Linked DNA regions of Homo sapiens. The protein of the gene in region 1 interacts with the protein of each later gene in a biochemical or structural test. Each region holds a gene or a part of one and is shown on either strand. Other genes may lie near its edges.

The links.
Region 2: the proteins of CAV1 (region 1) and CSK form a complex in vitro, tested with the Homo sapiens proteins (one study listed by BioGRID).
Region 3: the proteins of CAV1 (region 1) and ABL1 interact on a protein array, tested with the Homo sapiens proteins (one study listed by IntAct).
Region 4: the proteins of CAV1 (region 1) and PTGS2 form a complex in vitro, tested with the Homo sapiens proteins (2 studies listed by BioGRID).

The regions. Positions count from the first base shown.
Region 1 is NC_000007.14:116,528,004-116,535,038, forward strand, and holds part of CAV1 (caveolin-1), read left to right. Parts: intron 1-7,035. UniProt on the Homo sapiens protein: May act as a scaffolding protein within caveolar membranes. Forms a stable heterooligomeric complex with CAV2 that targets to lipid rafts and drives caveolae formation. Mediates the recruitment of CAVIN proteins (CAVIN1/2/3/4) to the caveolae.
Region 2 is NC_000015.10:74,799,052-74,803,704, reverse strand, and holds the end of CSK (tyrosine-protein kinase CSK), read right to left. Parts: intron 4,434-4,653; coding exon 4,214-4,433; intron 3,294-4,213; coding exon 3,200-3,293; intron 3,025-3,199; coding exon 2,959-3,024; intron 2,883-2,958; coding exon 2,783-2,882; intron 2,694-2,782; coding exon 2,603-2,693; intron 2,184-2,602; coding exon 2,110-2,183; intron 2,011-2,109; coding exon 1,815-2,010; intron 1,709-1,814; coding exon 1,622-1,708; intron 1,375-1,621; coding exon 1,192-1,374; 3' UTR 508-1,191; downstream 1-507. UniProt on the Homo sapiens protein: Non-receptor tyrosine-protein kinase that plays an important role in the regulation of cell growth, differentiation, migration and immune response.
Region 3 is NC_000009.12:130,880,230-130,887,264, forward strand, and holds part of ABL1 (tyrosine-protein kinase ABL1), read left to right. Parts: intron 1-270; coding exon 271-435; intron 436-3,739; coding exon 3,740-5,454; 3' UTR 5,455-7,035. UniProt on the Homo sapiens protein: Non-receptor tyrosine-protein kinase that plays a role in many key processes linked to cell growth and survival such as cytoskeleton remodeling in response to extracellular stimuli, cell motility and adhesion, receptor endocytosis, autophagy, DNA damage response and apoptosis.
Region 4 is NC_000001.11:186,671,259-186,677,426, forward strand, and holds the end of PTGS2 (prostaglandin G/H synthase 2 precursor), read right to left. Parts: intron 5,659-6,168; coding exon 5,575-5,658; intron 5,456-5,574; coding exon 5,209-5,455; intron 4,927-5,208; coding exon 4,640-4,926; intron 4,139-4,639; coding exon 3,991-4,138; intron 3,505-3,990; coding exon 3,095-3,504; 3' UTR 533-3,094; downstream 1-532. UniProt on the Homo sapiens protein: Dual cyclooxygenase and peroxidase in the biosynthesis pathway of prostanoids, a class of C20 oxylipins mainly derived from arachidonate ((5Z,8Z,11Z,14Z)-eicosatetraenoate, AA, C20:4(n-6)), with a particular role in the inflammatory response.

The DNA.
Region 1 (7,035 bases):
ACTAGAAAATAGAATTGCTAAAAAACTATTTACTAAAAACATTACCTTAAAGGGAGAGGATATTTGTGTTTTCCCCCACCCCCACCCTTCTCATGTGGCTTTGAACAAGAAGGAGAGTTGCCAGGAAAAGAGGCAGATTTCAGAGAGGGCTGGCTTCACTGGATCCTCCCTGTTGTTCCACTGCACTGTGAGTGAGATTCCCTGGAGCAAGCGAATCTCCCGGGATGAGTCAGAGAGGCCAACAGTGTGGATGTGGGTCTCCACACATAGCATGACTAAGTTGAGAAAGAAAGGCCCCACTGGGAAAAGAGACTTCAACACAGATGGAAAAAAAACATAACAGGCTTGGAGGAAATAGCAGTTTACAAAACAGCATTTCAAAGAGCAAGTGTGGGGATCCTCAAATTAAAGAAATTAAAAGAAAAAGCTAGAGCAAGCTCCTGCTAGCCTAAAGAAACCAAACCCTGACTACTTGCTCATAGAACTGTGAGCAAAACAAGACAGTCAAACCAAAAAATCCACCTAGAAAAGAATTTGGCAGTCTCACTCAGATGCCTGGCCTAGAGGGGACTTCAGAGAATGCCCTACAGAGAGACACCAAGACTACAAATGCAAATTCTGCCCAAAGAGTGCCTGGCCGATGAACAGGGTCCTATCTACATCTTATGGAGACTCCTATTTTATAAATATGTATCCTCAAGTCCAAGCACAAACAAAATAACAGAAACAGGGATGATTCTCTCCCAGTTTCCATGACAGTAAATAATAAATTTCCCTAAATTTTACTTTCAACAACATAGACTTTTTTTATTTTTATTTTTATTTATTTATTTATTTATTTTTTGAGACGGAGTCTCACTCTGTCACCCAGGCTGGAGTGCAGTGGCATGATCTGGGATCACTGCAACCTCCACCTCCCAGGTTCAAGCAATTCTTCTGTCTCAGCCTCCTGAGTAGCTGGGACTACAAGTGCACGCCACCATGCCGGGTTAATATTTGTATTTTTAGTGGAGACGGGGTTTCACCATGTTGGCCAGGCTGGTCTTGAACTCCTGACCTCAAGTGATCCACTGGTCTTGGCCTCCCAAAGTGTTGGGATTACAGATGTGAGCCACTACACCTGGCCAACAACACAGACTTCTTAAAAAAATCATGACAATAATTTTGGGTGCTTCTTAAAAGCACCCAAAGCTTTACTGCTAATGCATGGTAGCTTAAAACTTCACATAATAAGAAAGAACCAGTGGCCAATGGAATCTACTGTTAAAGGTACCCAATCAAGTAAGGAAAAGTTGGTCCTAAAAGCAAGCAGCCCTGTAAAAGCTGCTCTGTCCAATATGGTAATCACTAGCCATTTGTGTTTCCATTTAAATTTCAAGTAATTAATATCAAGTAAAATTTAAAATTCAGTTCCTTAGTCACACTAGCCACGTTGTGAGTGTGCAACAGGTAAAGCTAGTGGCACAGACATAGAACATTTCCATCAGCACAGAAATCTCTATTGGACAGTGCCAGATTAGGGTGTTCTCTGCATTGTAAAAGCATCCCCTTGCCAAGTTAAAGAAAACAACAACAAAACTCTAGAGAAGAAATGAAACCCCAGTTTCATTTCTGGAGAGGAAAGAAAACTCATGTGTGGCATGAGTTTATATTCAAGAAGGTGCAGCATTATTACCTATTTTACTAGTAATAATGACACACATTATAGTATACAATCCAGTTCCAATAAAATTAATTTCTCATCTTACTAAAAGCTTGCTGCTCCACATTATGAGACAATTTACCCAAATATAGACATTTACCCAAAAATATTAAGTAGCTTGTGAATACTTTTTAAAATTTCCTTTAATTAAAGTGGTCACAAACTCAAACCCTTCATTCTCCCTCTGAGATTTCTGTGTCATCTTTTGTTCACATTGTTATTCACATGTTTATTATGTACTTATTTTGATTTTCTAGATAAATAAAATGGCTTCAAATCTATAATTCTGATAAAATTAGCCATCAATTAATTTATTTATTAAACCCATGCAATATGCTAGATTAGATGCTTTGCTATGTAATTCCTACAATAAATCCTAGCAATCACAAAGATTACAGTTAGTGAGACGACATGCACACAGGTAAAAAGTGTTTTTAAAAAATACATACATACAACCAAAACAGTAAGTCACTGCTACATGGAAACTGATTGGTCCTTTTTCCTTTTTTTTTTTTTGCCTTGACTGCCAGGAAGCAGTTTCAAATCTATAGCTGGATTTTAAGTTTCATTAATTCATGTTCCCACATATGGTTCTGTATTTTCACTTCCCCCTTTTAACTGACATACTGTCTTATGTGATCTCTACTGTAAGCCTTCTCATCATTTTGGAAACAGACCAAATATAATATATATGATAAGGAATCAAAAGTAAATACAGTAGTGTTGAATATTGCATAACAAAAAGGTTTTTAAATAGGGAATGGTATCAATATGAAGTGTTAGGGAGACCCAGCCATGAAAAGGATAGCAGGGTCAGAGAAGGAGGATGTATTGCAGCTGGTTTAATGGAGAATGGTATGAAGGAGGTGCAGTTTGAATTGGGTCATGGAGGACAGATGGATTGCAAATAGCTGGGGCAAAAGCACAGGAAGGCATTCTAAACGAGCCAGGCATGGAGACAAGAATGTCTCCCACAAGGGAGTTGTAGTAGCTCAATCAGACTGGGATTTGAGATTTCATGTGGCAGAGTGGTAGGTGATAAAGGTGAAAAGACTGATCATAGTAAAATGCGGAGTCTGTAAATCCAGCACTCATGATAAGTTTGGACATCATGTCAACAGTGGACAGCCATAAATGACTGCAAGCATCGGTGTGGTATAATGAAGGTGACGTTTTTGTAAAATGACTCTGGTGAAGGTACAGAAGGTAATGAAAAGTAGCCAGTCTAGTTGAGCAGAAAAGAGTTCAGATGTAATTGCATCATGGTCCAGATGTGAAATGAAGACAATGCGAAGTGGCATTGTGGATCGAAACATACATGCACAAAATGACAGAATTTTAGAATTTGAAGGGATCATCATGGTTACCAGGCTGGCCTCCAATTCCTCTTTTGTAATATTAATAGAAATTAAGGGCTAACAAGTTTAAAATGTTATCCATCTTTTTACATAGTTACTGCCCAAAGTGAATATTTTGAAATGTATCATTAAAGAAGAATAGATAAGATTATGTGATTCACCATGGACTATTGTCATGAGAGGAAAAATGTGTTTAGATGATTCTGTTAGCACTGAGACAAATCAGGATATCTGAAAGGAGGTCTTTGTTGAAAAACAGAAATATGCATTCATAACTTGCTTTTCTAAAATTGGAATGTAATGATTCTTAAATATGCACAGACACAAATTTTTCTTTAACAGTCAAGAAAATGCACGCAGGTGATAATCAGATCAGTTTTGGTTATAGTACAAAGGTTTAATGCCTCCGTGATCCCTTTCAACTTGAAAGCATTCTAGAGCAATTGGTGATTAATATCAGTATAACAGTCATTTATAAAATTATTATTTATTTGATATACATCTAATCAAAGCATAAGATTTATTTTTATTATTATTATTATACTTTAAGTTTTAGGGTACATGTGCACAATGTGCAGGTTAGTTACATATGTATACATGTGCCATGCTGGTGCGCTGCACCCACTAACTCGTTGTCTAGCATTAGGTTTAAAAGATCAGATTGTCTCGGCACCATGTTAATATCTTTTTCTGTTGGCATTAGTATTAGTTTTGCTTGTGTATTTGTTTAGGAGATAGCTTCACAAGTTGGTGATTGATATTCTACCATGTATGAAGTCATGCGTGGAATTCAGAATCCCCAGCTTGTAAAATTGCATTATGATCATCTTTAGTGGGAAATTGTTCTCAGAATACTGAGCAAAGGATGATACCAAAATGGCAGCTATTATTCATTCTTAAGCATATGAAATGCTTTCAGGTTCAACCCAAAATTACATACATTTTAAATGCTTACTAAAAGAGTCTTTTCCCTCCTCCATCTATTAACTGCAATCAAAAAACTTCGGTTTTAACTGAACATGATTTCATATTATTTATTAAAATTTAAGGCAAGGTGCACCAAGTACCCTTGAATTATGAAAAGCTTCATGATGTGGGATATTCTTTCAGTTAACGGCAGGGTTGGCTACACTTTTAAGGGGTTCAAAGTAGGAACAGCTGCAATAGTGAGCTGCATCTGGAAAGTCCAGTAATTTGAAAAACCACCTGTTTATGTATCCTGCCCACTCAAGTCCATAAAATAACAGACACTTTCATATTCCAAATGAAACTGCTTTTTAGTTTGCCCTACTTTTAAACATAACTCTTTGTGATGGAATGACCAGAAACAGCTGGTCTCTAAGAGGACAGGGCTATGTGCGCTCACCTGCGGGGTTGGACCTTCCATAATCCCCCTGGCTGTGGGGAAAGTTGAGGGCTGCTGTCTTTATACAAAGATGGTTTATTCCAAGATACACACACTCTTCTTCCACACCCTGGAGACCTTGCATATTTAGTATCTTCTTTACCATAATCTGAGGCCCTAGAGAAAAAGATTTGCAAACTATACTTGTTTTAAAACAACTTTCTAAAAAAGACACTCTCAGCCCCTAGAAATTATGCCTAACACATAGATGCTCAGAGGCAACCTGTTGTAGTGCAAGAGGATTGTGCCAAGATTAGAAAACAAATATTTGCAACTTTTGTAACTGTCTTCTCTAAAACTTGAATGTGGTGATTCTAAAGTAAAGACCGACACAAAATTCTTTTTCTTTAGCAGTCAGGAAAAGGCATGCATGAAGTAATCAGATCAGGTGTGGTTTCAGCATAATGGCCTAATGCTTTCATGATCTCTTTCAACTGGAAAGCGTTCTAGTCCCACTGGACACCAAGGAGGAAGAAGGGACGGAAAATATTAGGCCCATAGGTTTATCTTCCTCAGTAGTCCACGAGATTTGAGCTTATATGTAGGGAGCAAAATTGTTTGTCTAAAAGCAGTTAATAAATGCCCCAAAAAGGCTGGGCGCAGTGACTCACTCCTGTAATCCCAGCACTTTGGGAGCTCAAGATTGGTGGATCATGAGGTTAGGAGAGCAAGATCATCCTGGCCAACACGGTGAAACCCCATCTCTATGAAAAATACAAAAATTAGCTGGGTGTGGTAGCGCGTGTTTAATCCCAGCTACTGGGGAAGCTGAGGCAGGAGAATGGCTTGAACCCAGGAGGCCAAGATTGCAGTGAGCCAAGATTGCGCCACTGCACTCCAGCCTGGTGACACAGCGAGACTCCGTCTCAAAAAATAAAATAAATAAAATAAAATAAAATAAAATAAAATAAAATAAAATAAAATAAAATAAAATAAAATAAAAATAAAATGAACGCCCCAAAAATATTTTGGGCAAACTATTTTGTGTTTCTTTTCTTTATTTATTTATTTCTTTTGAGACAAAATCTTGCTCTGTTGCCCCGGCTGGAGTGCAATGGCACAATCTTGGCTCACTGTATCCTCAACCTCCTGGGCTCAAGCAACTCCTGAGTAACTGGGACCACAGGGATGTGCCACAATTCCCGGCTAATTGTTTTAGCCAGGATATAAATGCTGCCTACATAGAGTTTGTAGCTATCTCCTTGACTTTCTTTATGCAGATTCCTTCACAAACTTTTGATGGATTCCTTTACCAAATTCTACTGTCTGTTAAAATCTTCTATCTTTATATCTTTAGTCCAAACAACACGTCATTTATAAACCTTAAAATTGTTTCTGGGCAAATAAACAAGGCAAAATAGGAATATATATTTTTAGGCAATTTACTTCTGTTTTGGTCTCATAAAAAATTGTAATTAAATTGTAGAAAATATTTCAATTCCTCTTTAATATCCTCTCCTCACATACTGGCTCTCAACTTCTAATCCTCCTATTGAAACATTGATTGGGAGGCCAAGGCAGGCGGATCAACTGAGGTCAGGAGTTTGAGACCAGCCTGGCCAACATGGTGAAACCCTGTCTCTACTAAAAATACAAAAGATTAGCTGGGCATGGTGGCATGCACCTGTAGTCCCAGCTACTTTGGTGGCTGAGGCACGAGAATCGCTTTAACCCGGGAGGCAGAAGTTACAGTGTGCCAAGATCAAGCCACTGAACTCCAGCCTGGGCGACAGAGTGAGACTCCATCACAAAAAAATAAAAATAAAAATTGAAATTTGCAGCCTTTTTAAAACCCCATAGCCTCTTTATAAACCCAAAAGCACTATCAAATTTGGCGAGGTGTCAAAAGAATCAGAGGAATGTTTACAAATACAGATGCCTGGGCCCACCTCAGATATATATATATATATATATATATATATATATATTTTTTTTTTTTTTTTTTTTTTGAGACGATGTCTTGCTCTGTCACCCAGGCTGGAGTGCAGTGGCATGATCTCAGCTCACTGCAAGCTCCGTCTCCCGGGTTCACGCCATTCTCCTGCCTCAGCCTCCCAAGTAGCTGGGACTACAGGCGCCCGCCACCACGGCTGGCTAATTTTTTCTATTTTTTAGTAGAGACAGGGTGTCACCGTGTTAGCCAGGATGGTCTCAATCTCCTGACCTTGTGATCCGCTCGCCTCGGCCTCTCAAAGTGCTGGGATTACAGGCGTGAGCCACTGCACCCGGCCCAGATATATTAAATTAGAATATCTAGAGGTGGAGCCTGAGTATCTGTATTTTTCAGAGTTTCAAATGATCGTTCTTCAAATGATTACACTGTGAAGTCAGATTTAGAAATGACTGTACCCAAGGTTGGCTAAAAGATACACACCCTGGTTGATTCTACCTGAAGAGAGCAAATAAGATACACAGCAAAGTTGTAGATGTTTTCCCTGCCAGTAGAATACTTGCGGGTTAGGCCATTTAAAACCCTGCCAGAGAGTTTTGAAACACTGTGGAGGGCTCCCAAATCAACTTGCTCAATGGTTCTCCATCCCTTCAGGCTACTTGGGCTTAAAGCCAACTGC
Region 2 (4,653 bases), on another chromosome or scaffold:
CATGGCAGGGGTGGGGACAGGGCAAAGCTGTGACATCGTGGGTGAAACTGGAGAACCACCAGGAGCTTTCCCGTCCCTCTCCGGGTCAGCATCTTCTCAGGCATGAGACACTTCTCCTCCTGCCAGAGGAAGCCCACTGGGCCCACCATTGCTTTTTCTCTCTCTTGCACAGGGGGCTTGACTAGAACCCCGTTCCCATCTGTGCAGGCCTGGGCTCCCTCCCATCCCTAGCTGTAGCCCTCCTTGTGCGGCAGGCTTGAAAACAGCAGGGGAGGCAGCTGGAACCCCCAGGCAGCATCCTGTAGATGGGGCCCCGGAGCTGGGCCTGGCGGCAGCAGGGCAACTGGTGAGCACTTCCCGGAGGGCAGACACAAGGACACTCACTCGTGCAGCTGACACAAAGCGGCGGCTACATCTCCCAGCCATGCTCCCCACCCAGCCCCACTCACAGACACAGGGGGATGGACAAGATGGCATGGGAGGGACGACCGGGCAGGACAAGCAGGCTCGGTGGAGGAAGCGCCGAGGCGGGCGGCGGTGTCCTCATGGCGTGGTTTATTACAATTCCATCTCACAAGGCGGGTGGGCGGGTGGCAGCGGCACACGAAATCCAAGCCCCTGACAGACGTCTGCCTCGGGCGCATGCAAACAGTGCAACATGGTCAAGCGCAAACACGGGGCGACCGAGGAGACACGGGACATGGGACACAGAATGGGGAATGAGGCTGGGGCGAGGGGTCCCTAGAGAGGGGCCCGGTCCCCCCCACCCTCACGGGCAGGACAGGAAAAATAAGATTCGTACTTCTTGTAAAATGCCCATTTGCTGGGTACTTTCTTTCTCCTTATCTTGAAAAATAATAAAAAATAAACACACGGAAAAAAAATCTCAAAAAAGGAAAGGAATAAAACTCTAAGAAGGCGAGTGGCGGGAGGCCAGGGAAGCCCGACGTGGTGGGGCGCTGCCTCCCGCTCCGTGGCCTCCTTCCTCCCTGGCCCCTCAGTGGGCTCCCCAGGCCCCACAGGTGGGTCCAAGAGAGACGGGGCCGGAGGGGTGCAGGCTGGGACGCAGGAAAAAGGCCCGCCAGCCCGCTGGGGCTCAGTTCAGGCTCGGGCCCAGTGAGCAGGGGCACCAGGTCCATGATCTTCCAGGTTCAGTCCCCACAGGCCCATGACCCAGGCGGAGGCCAGCCGTCACAGGTGCAGCTCGTGGGTTTTGATGTGCTCAAGCTGCTCTCGGAGCTGTAGGAAGGAGGGCCGCATGGCGGCGTCCAGGTGCCAGCAGTTCTTCATGACTTCATAGACTGCGGGCGGGCAGCCGTCGGGGGCATCCATCTTGTAGCCCTTCTCCACCCGAGGGACGACGTCCTTCAGGGGCTGTGGCCAGGGGGAGGCAGGAGTCAGTCCAGGCCCTGGCCTCAGAGAGGACACCTACCCAGCAGCCTCTCAGGGATGCCCATCAGCTTTGCCGCAGACCCAGGCCCGGAGAGTGGCCTGTGAGCTCCCCAGGGCAGGCCTGAGGCTTCTAGGCCTTGATTGGGGAGGCAGGGCCCAAGGAGGCTCACGCCCCTGCCAACCCCTCCGGTGCTCCAAGAGCCACCCTGATCCCAGTACCCATACTCACAATTCTTGGATAAGGCACTCGCCCAAAGGAGTAGATTTCCCAGAGAAGGATTCCGAAACTCCACACGTCAGACTTAGTGGAGAATTTCTGCCATGTGGATGGAAGAAGCAGCGTCAGATCCTGGGACTCCAGGGTGGGGAGTGACCCAGGACTCCTGCCCACCTCTGTAGGCCCCAGGGGAGGCCAGCCCCACCTTCTCTCTCAGGGCCTCAGGGGCTGTCCACTTGACTGGCAGCTTGCCCGTGTCCTGGGTGCTGGACGCCTCCTTGGTGAGACCAAAGTCGCTGACCTTGGCCACGTTGTCCTCAGACACCAGCACATTGCGGGCAGCCAGGTCTCGATGCACGAAATTGTTGCCCTCCAGGTATTCCATGGCCTCGCAGACATCTCTGGGGGTAGGCCAGCCACATGTCCCCTCAGACTGGGGCTCCCATAGCAGGGCAGGGTACCCCTCAAACCCTACCCATCCAAGAGGCTGCTTCACTCACAGCGAGAACTTGAGGAGACAGTCTCCGCCCAGCACTGACCGACCCCTAGACCGCAGGTAGTCCACAAGGCTCCCCTGGGGGCAGGAAGGACAGACCAGGCCGAGGTCAGACGTGCCCTGCAGCCCTCTCACACAGCACGCTGGGGCCGGGTGGGTGTTGACACTCCAGGGAGGTGTGAGACAGGGAAGGAGTGGGGAGGGGCCAGAACATCCATGCCGGACACTGCTCTGTGTTATTCATGCCTTATCCCTTGACTCTCACAAATCTCTAAGTTGTTATTATCTCCATTTCCCAGATGTGATGCTGAGGCTTGGAGGTGACATGATTTGTCCAATGTTACAGTCAATGAATGGTAAACCAGGACAAAAGCCCAGCCCTGGTGACCTAAAAGCTCACTTGGGGTCGGGGGACTGAGGGAGCAGGGGCCCTAGAGCACAGTGGGGGTTTCGGGGCAGTTGGAAGGCCTGAGTGCCGGGTCTCGGCAGGTGCCCACCTTGGCCATGTACTCAGTGACGATGTAGAGCCCGCCCTTCTCCTCCACGATCACGCCCAGGAGCTGCACCAGGTTGCTATGCCGCAGTTGCCTGGGGCAGGACGAGAGTGGTCAGAAAGGGGAAGCTGGTGCCTCACTCCTAACCTAGGCCAACCTCCCCCCTACCCCGCCCCCACTCACGTCATGACTGAGGCTTCAGCCAGGAAGGCCTGGGCAGTGGCGTCGTTCTTAATGCACTTGACGGCGACTTTGTTCCCTCGGTAATCGCCCAGCATCACGTCTGGGGGCAGAGAGGTGGTCTTGTTCCCAAGTTCGGAGTCCCTCAGAACCCCCCCAGGGGGCCCGGCCCAGCTCACCTCCGAACTCCCCCTTCCCGATGGTCTGCAGCAGCTTCAGCTCCTTCATGTTCAGGGCCCAGCCGCCTGTGGGGAGGGGCCAGTGAGGGCCTGGAGGCCACTAGGGACATGGCTGGGATGACAGAGGCTGACTGGACTATCAGGCACTGGGGTTCTCTGGAGGTTCCTGGATGGGGCAGTGCCAGGAAGCCTGCGTGGGAGGAGGTGGGTGGGCAAGAGGTCTGGGGTGGGGTGCACTCACTGCGGTAGAACTCATCCTGGGCCGCCACTGTGCCCTCCATGACCTTTGGTTTAATGAGGCGCGTACAGAGTCCATCTGCGTCTGAGGTGTAGTGCTGCAGGGTGTGGGGGGCAGGGTGCTCAGAGACAGCCCAAGGTGCCCCATATGCACCGTCCAGGCCTGACCACCAGAGGGCGGCAGAGGCCAGCCCCGCCTAGCCTGGAGTCACTGAGTGGGGAGGGCTCCCCATTTCTGGTAGGGCAGGGGTTAGGGAAGTCCCAGATTATGACGTATGGCCCATTTCCCATGCCACCCTACATGCGGTTGCTGGACACTCAGCTGCTGCTACCACTCTGGGCCCCATGGGTATCTGATGCAGAGGGCAACCCATGGCTCAGTCCTGAAACCAGCCTCTAGCCAGGAGTGCCCAGGACCCCACCCTCACCTGCCACAGGCCAAGCCAGGCCAGTAGGGGAGGGAGATAAGAGTGAATACAGAGGGACACGGGAGGCTTCCTGTGGCTACCGGATGCCAGGTGTGGCCTGGCCAGGGCTGGCAGAGCTGGCCTGGGAAGCTGCAGGGACCTGTGGGCATGTCCGTGCAGGTGCGAGAGCCTCAGGGGCCCTGGCGATCAAGGCGCATGGCTCATGTTTCTGCACACGCTTCTGAGCATGCAGGTCTGTGAGTGGCTGGAGGAAAGTTAGCTCTGGGATCAGACAGACTCAGATTCTAGTCCTGGCACCAAATTATATCTGTGGGACCTCAGGTGGGTCCCCTAACTGCTCTGAACCTTCAACTCCTGGTCTATAAAATGAGGATAAGGCTCCCCTCCTCATGGTGGCACTGTGGGGTCAGAGGTGAGTCCTGGCACGCAGCAGCTGCTCCACCAAGGTGTGAGGAAACAAGGGCTCACAGAAGTTGCCCCACATGGCTGGTCACCACGCAGAAGCAGTGGGGCTGGAGCTAGAAGCCAGGGCCCCAGATGGGTTTAGGGTGTGTGAGGGTGGGAGCAAGGCTCTGTACCCCCCAGCTCACCTCCACCAGCTGCATGAGGTTCTCAAAGTACACCTCCTCGTCGATGCTGAGCTTGCTGGCATGGTACATGATGCGGTAGTGCTCCACCTTGCCGTCGCAGCTCACGCACAGCGTGTAGTCTCCGGGGTAGTTGGTGCTCTCCCGCACCAGGAACAGGCCTGTCTCCGGCGGGTACAGAAGCCGCTCAGCCTGCTCCCGTGTGATCTTGCCGTGGAACCAACTGGGGAGCAGCAGGGCTGGAGGTCATGGTGGCCCAAAGGTACTGACCCTGGCTCCCCTTTCTGAAGGGGTTCCCTCTGCTTGGCACCCGTGGCTCGCACTCGCTCAGTCAGGCATTTGAGGCCCTCTTCTTCTGCTCCCTGTCCCTTCTTTGCCACCCTCCTGCCTCTGCCCCCAGCCCTGCTCTGTGAGGTCCCGCACCCGCACCCTGCACCTCCTCC
Region 3 (7,035 bases), on another chromosome or scaffold:
CGGTTCACTTCCTGGTGAAAGTTCACAGACCAGCCTGTCCTGAGACCAGAAAGCTGGGCAGAGGTGTGGAGTATTGTGCTTTCTTGTCTGCTGCAGCCCTGCAGAGTTCTAAGAAATGCTAAGGGCTGTTTCTCCGGTATCCACGTGCCTTTTCTTTAGTTGTATGCAGATGAGCACTGTTACCTTACAAAGAAAGAGAACCACCACACCAAGCCAACACCAGTACTGATGGCTGCTGGATTTTTGTTTCTGTCCCTGTATGATTCTTAGAAGTGGAAAAGGAGCTGGGGAAACAAGGCGTCCGTGGGGCTGTGAGTACCTTGCTGCAGGCCCCAGAGCTGCCCACCAAGACGAGGACCTCCAGGAGAGCTGCAGAGCACAGAGACACCACTGACGTGCCTGAGATGCCTCACTCCAAGGGCCAGGGAGAGAGCGGTAAGTCCCCCGCTTCCCCCAACCCCACTGCTCTTCCCTTCCCTGCCAGAGGCTACATTCAGGCCATCATAGGCCAACGGGAAGCTGTGAATGGAGCCCGCACAGAAGGGCAGCCATGGCCTTTGTCAATGGTTCAGCTTCGGAAGGAGGAAGGTTCTCCTCTCCCCACCTGCCTCCTATCCCCTCCCTCTGAGAGTCCCCGAGGAGCATAGGCTCCAGCAGTGAGTTCAGTCCTGTAGGCAGAGGTGCTTCTGAAGCCCGCCAAGGAGCTAGCCCATCTCCCACCTATTACCCGCGGCATCTGTGGTTGCTGTCTCAGAGCAGATTCAACAATAGTAAGCACCAGGCTGCGTGACAAGCAGCTCACGGTGAAGGCACTGATGTGAGAAGCTCGCTGCAGCCAGGTGGAACCAGGACACGCACATGGACAGAACCCGTGTCCTGGTGGTCTCTGGGAAGAGCATCTTTCTGGTGCCATTGCCTAGGCGAGCAAGGGAGTTGGGATCAGCTCAGGAGGGGGTCTCAAGACACTAGCAAAAATAATAATGGCCAACATTTATGTAGTGTGCCTACTACAGGCCAGGCTCTGTTCTATGTTCATGGTTGACCCCCAGAACCAGCAGTCCAGGTTCTGCTGCAGACCAGCTGAACAAAAGCATTGAGGGGTGTATTAGTCTGTTTTCATGCTGCTAATAAAGGTATACCCAAGACTGGGTAATTTATAAAGGAAAGAGGTTTCACTGACTCACAGTTCCACATGGCTGGGGAGGCCTCACAATCATGGCTGAAGGTGAATGAGGAGCAAGGTCACATCTTACTTGGCGGCAGGCAAGAGAGCTTGTGCAGGGGAAGTCCGCTTTATAAAACCATCAGATCTCGTGAGACTTATTCACTACCACGAGAATGTGGGAGAAACCTCCCCATGATTCATTGATCTCCACCTGACCCCACCGTTGACACGTGGGGCTTATTACAATTCAAGGTGAGATTTGGGTGGGGACTCAGCCAACCCATATTGGAGGTGGGGGGTAGGCCAAGCATCTGGGTTCACAGAGGATCCTGGGGATGGCAATGGTGGACTCCATTCTAATGGACTGCAGACTGGGTACATGTGAAGGGACTGGACAAAGCCCTACTTCTTGAAGATTTATGGTGGGATGTTTACTGACAGCAGAATCTATAAACCTGAGTTTTATCACGTACTCTCATTAGTAAAAAAAAAACAAAAAAAAACAGAACATGCAGCCCATATATATGGTATATAAAGTACGTATGTCCACTACTGTAGGAGTAGAGTGCGTATGTTATGTACCAAAACGCACATTTAAAAGGCTTGCATGCTAAATAAGTCCAAATTTGCAATACTTCCCGCCCCGCTGGGCCATCTCACTCACCTACTTGGAGGTTATGGCGTATAGACTCTCCAGAATCTTCCACCCTTCCTCCTCTTATCGGTTTTCCTGATTTCAGGTGGCTGAGCAGTAGGGAGGAGAGGCCTCTGGGAACGCTGTGCTTATTAAGAACCCAGTGATCAGCAGTCATGTTCATTTACGCCCGTCAGTTTCATCTGAGGGGTATTTTGATAGTGATCTCTTGGTGAGCCGAGGGTGTCAATTAACTGCTCAGTGCTGAAACTGAGTGGTGCATAATTCATTGCAATTTCACTCTCCTGGCCTCCTTCCACTAGATTAAAGTTTTGGGAGGGCTTTGGTGTTCCCTGATTCAGATGTCCCGCGTGCTGCCTTGGGTTCTGATAAATGCATACTGGTACCTCTGTTGAGTTACAGGTGCCAACAGAAAACCTCTTCTTGCAAGCTGACCTCTGAGGGAGAATTCTGTTACTCACTAGCAGGAGCTTGGCAACACCAAAAAGATTTCCTTTTTTTTTTGAGATGGAGTCTCACTCTGTTGCCAGGCTGGAGTGCAATGGCATGATACCAGCTCACTGCAACCTCCACCTCCTGGGTTCAAGCGATTCTCCTGCCTCATCCTCCTGAGTAGCTGGGACTACAGGCGTGTGCCACCACACCCAGCTAATTTTTGCATTTTTTAGTAGAGACGGGGTTTCATCATGTTGGCCAGGATGGTCTCTATCTCTTGACCTCATGATCCGCCCACCTCAGCCTCCCAAAGTGCTGGGATGACAGGCTTGAGCCACCGCGCCTGGCTACCAGAAAGATTTCTTATGAGCTATGATTCATATTTAAAGAGTGCCCATTAAAAAACTGTTGGCCGGGCGTGGTGGCTCACACCTGTAATCCCAGCACTTTAGGAGGCCGAGGTCAGCGAATCACAAGGTCAGGCTCCCGTGGCACAAGCTGGGGGCTGCCCCCACCCCATGCTCCCCAGAGGAGCACCCAAGCGTCTGGGCTCAGACAGGCCTGGATCTGATAACCGGCTCTGATGCCACCATCCCTGAGGCCAGGCAAGTCCCAGCCGGGCTACAGCACTGTTGTGAGAATGCAGATGAGGTTGTAAAGGTGAAGCACGTGTCACGCTTCTCTCAATAAAGCCATCATTGCTGTTAGGATTGTCATTAGGAAAGGCTTTGGGCCGGGTGCAGTGGCTCATGCCTGTAATCCCAGCACTTTGGGAGGCCAAGGCGGGTGGATCACCTGAGGTCAGGAGTTTGAGACCAGCCTAACCAACATGGTGAAACCCCGTCTCTACTAAAAATACAAAATTAGCCAGGCGTGGTAGCGGGTGCCTATAGTCCTAGCTACTTGGGAGGCTGAGGCAAGAGAACCATTTGAACCTGGGAGGCGGAGGTTGCAGTGAGCTGAGATCGTGCCACTGCACTCCAGCGTAGGCAACAAGCGAGACTCCAACTCAAAAAAAAAAAAAAACCACACACACGCTTTGGTCTCTTTCCCTGAAGATGGGAACAAAAAGCTGGACGGCCCTGGCCTCTTCATCCCTGCACTGGTTTACTTGAAGGCAGCAGCCCCCCACCCACCCACATCACTCTCTAGTGAGTATAAAAACGATGACAAGGCCAAGCAAAGGGTCAAAACCTGTGGCTCTCCTGCCAGCCAGCTAGCCGAGAGGCCTATGAGGAGCTCTGGGAATAAGGGGCTGTGTCCCACAGTGGGGAAGGGACAATGGGCCATTATGCACAGGAGATAAGAAGGGATGACCTTTGACAATTTTTTTGTTTGTTTGTTTGTTTGTTTTGAGATGGAGTCTCACTCTGTCTCCTGGGCTGGAGTGCAGCAGTGGCACTCTGCCTCCCGGGTTCAAGCGATTCTCCTCTGTCAGCCTCTAGAGTTGTCTGGAGTTGTCAGCTCTTCCCCTTGCGTTTCAGATCCTCTGGACCATGAGCCTGCCGTGTCTCCATTGCTCCCTCGAAAAGAGCGAGGTCCCCCGGAGGGCGGCCTGAATGAAGATGAGCGCCTTCTCCCCAAAGACAAAAAGACCAACTTGTTCAGCGCCTTGATCAAGAAGAAGAAGAAGACAGCCCCAACCCCTCCCAAACGCAGCAGCTCCTTCCGGGAGATGGACGGCCAGCCGGAGCGCAGAGGGGCCGGCGAGGAAGAGGGCCGAGACATCAGCAACGGGGCACTGGCTTTCACCCCCTTGGACACAGCTGACCCAGCCAAGTCCCCAAAGCCCAGCAATGGGGCTGGGGTCCCCAATGGAGCCCTCCGGGAGTCCGGGGGCTCAGGCTTCCGGTCTCCCCACCTGTGGAAGAAGTCCAGCACGCTGACCAGCAGCCGCCTAGCCACCGGCGAGGAGGAGGGCGGTGGCAGCTCCAGCAAGCGCTTCCTGCGCTCTTGCTCCGCCTCCTGCGTTCCCCATGGGGCCAAGGACACGGAGTGGAGGTCAGTCACGCTGCCTCGGGACTTGCAGTCCACGGGAAGACAGTTTGACTCGTCCACATTTGGAGGGCACAAAAGTGAGAAGCCGGCTCTGCCTCGGAAGAGGGCAGGGGAGAACAGGTCTGACCAGGTGACCCGAGGCACAGTAACGCCTCCCCCCAGGCTGGTGAAAAAGAATGAGGAAGCTGCTGATGAGGTCTTCAAAGACATCATGGAGTCCAGCCCGGGCTCCAGCCCGCCCAACCTGACTCCAAAACCCCTCCGGCGGCAGGTCACCGTGGCCCCTGCCTCGGGCCTCCCCCACAAGGAAGAAGCTGGAAAGGGCAGTGCCTTAGGGACCCCTGCTGCAGCTGAGCCAGTGACCCCCACCAGCAAAGCAGGCTCAGGTGCACCAGGGGGCACCAGCAAGGGCCCCGCCGAGGAGTCCAGAGTGAGGAGGCACAAGCACTCCTCTGAGTCGCCAGGGAGGGACAAGGGGAAATTGTCCAGGCTCAAACCTGCCCCGCCGCCCCCACCAGCAGCCTCTGCAGGGAAGGCTGGAGGAAAGCCCTCGCAGAGCCCGAGCCAGGAGGCGGCCGGGGAGGCAGTCCTGGGCGCAAAGACAAAAGCCACGAGTCTGGTTGATGCTGTGAACAGTGACGCTGCCAAGCCCAGCCAGCCGGGAGAGGGCCTCAAAAAGCCCGTGCTCCCGGCCACTCCAAAGCCACAGTCCGCCAAGCCGTCGGGGACCCCCATCAGCCCAGCCCCCGTTCCCTCCACGTTGCCATCAGCATCCTCGGCCCTGGCAGGGGACCAGCCGTCTTCCACCGCCTTCATCCCTCTCATATCAACCCGAGTGTCTCTTCGGAAAACCCGCCAGCCTCCAGAGCGGATCGCCAGCGGCGCCATCACCAAGGGCGTGGTCCTGGACAGCACCGAGGCGCTGTGCCTCGCCATCTCTAGGAACTCCGAGCAGATGGCCAGCCACAGCGCAGTGCTGGAGGCCGGCAAAAACCTCTACACGTTCTGCGTGAGCTATGTGGATTCCATCCAGCAAATGAGGAACAAGTTTGCCTTCCGAGAGGCCATCAACAAACTGGAGAATAATCTCCGGGAGCTTCAGATCTGCCCGGCGACAGCAGGCAGTGGTCCAGCGGCCACTCAGGACTTCAGCAAGCTCCTCAGTTCGGTGAAGGAAATCAGTGACATAGTGCAGAGGTAGCAGCAGTCAGGGGTCAGGTGTCAGGCCCGTCGGAGCTGCCTGCAGCACATGCGGGCTCGCCCATACCCGTGACAGTGGCTGACAAGGGACTAGTGAGTCAGCACCTTGGCCCAGGAGCTCTGCGCCAGGCAGAGCTGAGGGCCCTGTGGAGTCCAGCTCTACTACCTACGTTTGCACCGCCTGCCCTCCCGCACCTTCCTCCTCCCCGCTCCGTCTCTGTCCTCGAATTTTATCTGTGGAGTTCCTGCTCCGTGGACTGCAGTCGGCATGCCAGGACCCGCCAGCCCCGCTCCCACCTAGTGCCCCAGACTGAGCTCTCCAGGCCAGGTGGGAACGGCTGATGTGGACTGTCTTTTTCATTTTTTTCTCTCTGGAGCCCCTCCTCCCCCGGCTGGGCCTCCTTCTTCCACTTCTCCAAGAATGGAAGCCTGAACTGAGGCCTTGTGTGTCAGGCCCTCTGCCTGCACTCCCTGGCCTTGCCCGTCGTGTGCTGAAGACATGTTTCAAGAACCGCATTTCGGGAAGGGCATGCACGGGCATGCACACGGCTGGTCACTCTGCCCTCTGCTGCTGCCCGGGGTGGGGTGCACTCGCCATTTCCTCACGTGCAGGACAGCTCTTGATTTGGGTGGAAAACAGGGTGCTAAAGCCAACCAGCCTTTGGGTCCTGGGCAGGTGGGAGCTGAAAAGGATCGAGGCATGGGGCATGTCCTTTCCATCTGTCCACATCCCCAGAGCCCAGCTCTTGCTCTCTTGTGACGTGCACTGTGAATCCTGGCAAGAAAGCTTGAGTCTCAAGGGTGGCAGGTCACTGTCACTGCCGACATCCCTCCCCCAGCAGAATGGAGGCAGGGGACAAGGGAGGCAGTGGCTAGTGGGGTGAACAGCTGGTGCCAAATAGCCCCAGACTGGGCCCAGGCAGGTCTGCAAGGGCCCAGAGTGAACCGTCCTTTCACACATCTGGGTGCCCTGAAAGGGCCCTTCCCCTCCCCCACTCCTCTAAGACAAAGTAGATTCTTACAAGGCCCTTTCCTTTGGAACAAGACAGCCTTCACTTTTCTGAGTTCTTGAAGCATTTCAAAGCCCTGCCTCTGTGTAGCCGCCCTGAGAGAGAATAGAGCTGCCACTGGGCACCTGCGCACAGGTGGGAGGAAAGGGCCTGGCCAGTCCTGGTCCTGGCTGCACTCTTGAACTGGGCGAATGTCTTATTTAATTACCGTGAGTGACATAGCCTCATGTTCTGTGGGGGTCATCAGGGAGGGTTAGGAAAACCACAAACGGAGCCCCTGAAAGCCTCACGTATTTCACAGAGCACGCCTGCCATCTTCTCCCCGAGGCTGCCCCAGGCCGGAGCCCAGATACGGGGGCTGTGACTCTGGGCAGGGACCCGGGGTCTCCTGGACCTTGACAGAGCAGCTAACTCCGAGAGCAGTGGGCAGGTGGCCGCCCCTGAGGCTTCACGCCGGGAGAAGCCACCTTCCCACCCCTTCATACCGCCTCGTGCCAGCAGCCTCGCACAGGCCCTAGCTTTACGCTCATCACCTAAACTTGTACTTTATTTTTCTGATAGAAATGGTTTCC
Region 4 (6,168 bases), on another chromosome or scaffold:
TCAAGATATGTATGATTTCAGGAAATATGGTGGAAGAGGCCATCCCTGGAATGGAGAAGGCCAAAGAGGAGAGGCCAGGGAAGATGCTAAATATGTGGTCCATGTAGATATTGAAATTACCAAGATGTCAAGGATAGAGGTACAACAAAAGCCTATGAGCTTTTGCATCAATGATTTGCCCAACTTTGTATAATTTCCTCCTCTTTGAACTTCTTAACTTTGTGCCCCCTTCATAATATATGTCTTATTCTTTGCCTTATTGTGTATTTTTTTCTTCTTCTTCTAGACTAGGCAATGAAAATAAGCTTGTTTGCCATCTTCTGTAAAGATACACAAACTAGACATTTTCCAACACAGTGTCGCAGTGAATAAGGATTATGAGATTTAAATAGTGACTCTAGGAAGCCTCTATATAATTGAGGGCAAAACCATTTCATGAAGGGCCAGTCCTAGTTTTGAATAGGTAGGAGAATGCAAGATAATGGTTTAAGAGTAATGCTTCAGAGAAATCTTATGTCATATGACAAAGATGTATAGAAACAATCAAAGTTTATCTTCAGAAAAGATCTGTCAATTTTTAAATAGTACAAAAATAAACAGACATTTATTTCCAGACTTATCTTTTACATAAGTTAAATACACATTTGTCTGAGGCACTGAAACATTCGCATACACAACCCAAATTCCCAGGTTTTGTCAGCAGATCAATGTTAATAACAAATCAAGTTTTTTTTTTAAAAAAAACAGTGAACAGTGTTTTATACAAGCATATTGACTATTTCTTTCTTAACCTTAAACATTCTAAACGTAAAATTGTAAAGAAGATTCTCCTGAGTTATCTTTAATGATATTTATTTCATTTTCTCCCTCTTCCCAAAAGAAAATTTTTTTCAATTATTTATATAAATACTATTATCTGTAATCAGCGTTTGATTTAAAAATATTAAAACCCACAGTGCTTGACACAGAATATTTTCTCAATAAATTGTGGCTGAACAAATTAACGAAGCATCCACAGATCCCTCAAAACATTTTAAAAGGTCAGTCTTATGGCACATTCAGGCTAATGAGACAATATTCTTTGTGGGCTAGCACATAGGCCTATCCTAAGGACAAACATTCAACCTTAAATATCTCAATATGCCAATCAGATTTCTAAAAATTTATTCACAAATCTTAATACAATCATTTCTTTGGATTGTTTACATAATATTCAGAGAGGTAACCCCAAAGAAAATATACTGATTGTGACATAACAAAAAAAAATCAATGATTGTAGGCTTAAACACAGTTTATAACCATAGTGTCCTAATAAGACATAAATAATAATCTTCAATAAATTAAGTAATATACAGTACCATTAAATGTCAGTGACAATGAGATGTGGAAAAGAAGTATTATCGTCATTATTATTATTGCTGAGAACTACTTAGATATCATTTGGTTTTGTTTTTAAATAAGAAAGGGCATTAATTAGAATGGGAACGTAACTTTTTCCAGTCACAAACCCCGTACAGTTCTCTCTGAGGCACTAGCCTCTTTGCATCCATCTTGGTTACAGATAGCTAAAATTAGCTATAAATAAAATTCTCTGCTTTTCACTTAAAATAAGTGTATACTATTTTTAAAAGGGCCTTTTTTTTTCTCTTTTAATCTTCTTAAGAGGAGCTAAATAGCAGTCCTGAGCTGAGGTTTACCTGAAAACTTGCAAAAGTTCAGGTAAGAAAATATAGGCAGAGTCCAAAGAAAGTGAACTCTGATCTTAAAACTAGTAAAACAAAATAGGAGAAACGAAGTGATGAGAAGACTGTGTCTCTTAGCAAAATGGCTAAAAGAAGAAAAGAAAAGGAACAGCATGCAGGTAGCCAGGCTTGATTCCAATGCACCTACTGAATTGGCTTCAAGACTGAGATAAAATTAATGTGTGAAATGAATTTAAGCATTTTGAAGAGGTATTTTATGAGGTCATTGCTACTTTTGCAATGTGATATGGACTGCTAAATTAAACTGTACAACAGAAAATCTGAGAAAACATATCATTATTCAAGCACAGCTTGGTACTTCATTAACCTCATAGCAAAATCTGAGTACCAGGCCTGCAGTGCACAAGGATAAAAAAAAGTTTGCTTCAAAAGTTTAAACCTAAATTTGAACAATAATTTGGTTTTCTTCTTTGTTATTGCTTATTTTAAAGGTAGACCCTTTTGCTGATATAGATTTTACATGTTACCAGCCATATAAACAAATTCTGGAATATCTCAACAAAATATTCTTATTTTAAGATAACACTGCAGTGGCTCCACCACCTTAATAAATTTGGCATTTTGATTTAAAAGGAAGTTTTAACAGTCACACTAAAAAGGTTTATACTCTTGGTGAAAAAGGAACATCACTTATAAAATATTTTAACAAGCAATTGTAGTAAAATTTCTACTGATTTTACAGATTTAAATCCAAGACAGCTTCTTTTTGGTATATGTACAAGTTTAATAACTTTAAGAAATCAAACAAGCTTTTACAGGTGATTCTACCCTATGAATTTAGAAATTTCAAATTATTGTTTCATTGCTGATTTTAAAAAGTAGACATGAAATTACTGGTAATGTCTAATTTAAATATTCATTTAATAATGCACTGATACCTGTTTTTGTTTGATGACAGAAAAATAACCAAAAGTACTTTAAAATTTCAAACATTAGTTACTTCTAATGCATCATGGAAGATGCATTGGAAACATCGACAGTGTAAAAACTTTCAGCATTTTGCCATCTTGTGACAGTGTTTAAGTATTCAAACATCTTTACTTTCGTTCTTATAATATAAGTTGAAATTCAAGTAAAAAGACGTCAAAACTCATTTCTCTCTGGTTTATAAAACAGAATAAAAACTGTTTTCCAAACTTAACAGCAACAGCAAAATCTTTAGAGTAGTGACATAAAAGTCTTCACAAGTATGACTCCTTTCTCCGCAACAGGAGTACTGACTTCTGTTACAGAAGATGTTAAGTAACATAAGGAGTTTAATATAAATATTATTAAATAATTAAATTAATAGACATGGTTCATATAAATAAATAAATATGATCATTAGACTTCTACAGTTCAGTCGAACGTTCTTTTAGTAGTACTGTGGGATTGATATCATCTAGTCCGGAGCGGGAAGAACTTGCATTGATGGTGACTGTTTTAATGAGCTCTGGATCTGGAACACTGAATGAAGTAAAGGGACAGCCCTTCACGTTATTGCAGATGAGAGACTGAATTGAGGCAGTGTTGATGATTTGAAAACCCACTTCTCCACCAAAAGTGCTTGGCTTCCAGTAGGCAGGAGAACATATAACATTACCCATAAGTCCTTTCAAGGAGAATGGTGCTCCAACTTCTACCATGGTTTCACCAAAGATGGCATCTGGCCGAGGCTTTTCTACCAGAAGGGCAGGATACAGCTCCACAGCATCGATGTCACCATAGAGTGCTTCCAACTCTGCAGACATTTCCTTTTCTCCTGTGAAGGCGATGAAGACAGAGATACAACCAATGTCAAACTTCACAAAATAAAAAACAGTTTGATTCTTTTGCTCAATTTGCTGCCAACTTCTCTGTTTCCATTTGACCCCTGATTCTTTTAAGAAGTTTAGGGGCCAGGCGCGGTGGCTCACGCCTGTAATCCCAGCACTTCGGGAGGCCGAAGCCGGCGGATCACTAGGTCAGGAGTTTGAGACCAGCCTGGCTAACACGGTGAAACCCCGTCTATACTGAAAATACAAAAAATTATCCATGCGTGCGACGTGAGCCTGTAGTCCCAGCTACTCAGGAAGTTGAGGCAGGAGAATTGCTTGAACCCAGGAGGCGGAGGTTGCAGTGAGCCGAGATGGCGCCACTGCACTCCAGCCTGGGTGACAGAGGGCGGCTCCATCTCGAAAAGAAAACCAAAAACAACAAAAACAAACAAACAAACAAAAAACGAAGAAGTTTAGAAACTGTTTCTTACCTGTAAGTTCTTCAAATGATTCATAGGGCTTCAGCATAAAGCGTTTGCGGTACTCATTAAAAGACTGGTATTTCATCTGCCTGCTCTGGTCAATGGAAGCCTGTGATACTTTCTGTACTGCGGGTGGAACATTCCTACCACCAGCAACCTGTGGAAAGTAAAATTAGTTGTAAAACAAGAATTTTAGGCATATTTACTGTTTGTATTCAGCTTGCCTTAGGTACAAATCAGGTAAAACTGAAACTCCCAGCGGAGACAATTTTTATTTGCTGGAAAGATGCTTACCTACATTTCAACAGGAGCTCTGCTTAAAATTCAATGGGACACCAGCCTAGAACTAATTTGCCTTTTTACATTTCAAAAATAACACTAGTATTCAAGCCTAAAATATTTATTCCTATAAGATTATAGATACTTTTTGAAAATATTTTTAAGGTAGGGGTACAATTTGCTATTTGTCTGACAACTGTAGACTAGACTAAAAGTTTAGACTTTTCAAACAAAGTTAGGCTTCTTATATCAATAAAATAATTTTACTAGCAATATAACTAACTACTCTTTTAGTAAGTTTAAGAAAAATAATTTCCGTGGCAGAAATTCTAAAGTTACTGACTAGTCTTTTGTTTTGGTTTTCAATAATAATGCTTACCCTGCCAGCAATTTGCCTGGTGAATGATTCAACAAACTGGGTAATTCCATGTTCCAGCAATATAGAGTTGTTGTAGATAAACTGTTGATAGTTGTATTTCTGGTCATGAATTTGAAAGGTGTCAGGCAGAAGGGGATGCCAGTGATAGAGGGTGTTAAATTCAGCAGCAATACGATTTTGGTACTGGAATTGTTTGTTGAAAAGTAGTTCTGGGTCAAATTTCAGTTTGAAGTGATAGCCACTCAAGTGTTGCACATAATCTTCAATCACAATCTTAATAGTCTCTCCTATTTGCACAAAATAAATAATAAAAACATTTATTGCATCTGATCACAAGCTTTCAAGCAACTGGAATGCAATTTTTAAAATTTGCTATTCCTTCATTTCTGTTTTCTTCCTTGTCAGTATCAAAAGATAGCTATTTTATCAGTCATGCTTACATATTTAATGTATATAGAATGTGTGAGTTTTCATTTACCACATCTTGTCATTTACTCAAAACATAACAAAGATAGCACACTAATTTTCCCTGGGGAAGAGGGTTTTATATAAATCATTTTCTTGTTTACCTATCAGTATTAGCCTGCTTGTCTGGAACAACTGCTCATCACCCCATTCAGGATGCTCCTGTTTAAGCACATCGCATACTCTGTTGTGTTCCCGCAGCCAGATTGTGGCATACATCATCAGACCAGGCACCAGACCAAAGACCTCCTGCCCCACAGCAAACCGTAGATGCTCAGGGACTTGAGGAGGGTAGATCATCTCTGCCTGAGTATCTTTGACTGTGGGAGGATACATCTCTCCATCAATTATCTAAAAAAATAAATAAATAAATAAACATCAGTTAAAAAGTTAAGGAACACATTTTTAGGGATTTTAAAATATGGGTATAAGCGGTAATAACTAAGTCTTAATAGTCAAAGGAAGCATACCTGATATTTCATTTTTCCATCCTTGAAAAGGCGCAGTTTACGCTGTCTAGCCAGAGTTTCACCGTAAATATGATTTAAGTCCACCTAGAAAATGATGAAAAAATTTTAATTTGTTGCTGTTGAAGTTTTTCTTATATAAAGTGTCTATCATATAATTCATCATTAAATAATTTGATCATTTAGCTTTCTTTAAAATTTTTAAATAAAATATACATTTTTCATAGCCATGAATTGCTAAATTAATTTGTTTATCCACCAAAGCTACAAACTGATATGTCTTTGTGTTTAACGGAATTAATATACTATATTGAGCTTATATCATATATATTATATACTTCACTATGATGATATGGTAATTATAAAAAAGTATAAAAATGTATTATTTATAAAAAATTCTTACGAATAACTTGAAGCTATGCTATTGAAATCCAAAAAATAATAATGCGGCAAAAACCTCACTTTACAATATTGAAAGCGGCATAATCATGGTACAATGTGTTTTTGAGGACATAACATTTTGCAGTACTAACATTTTAAACTAAAAAATACAAGGGTCAAATTACAAATAACAATACCTGTACATATGTATGTGTG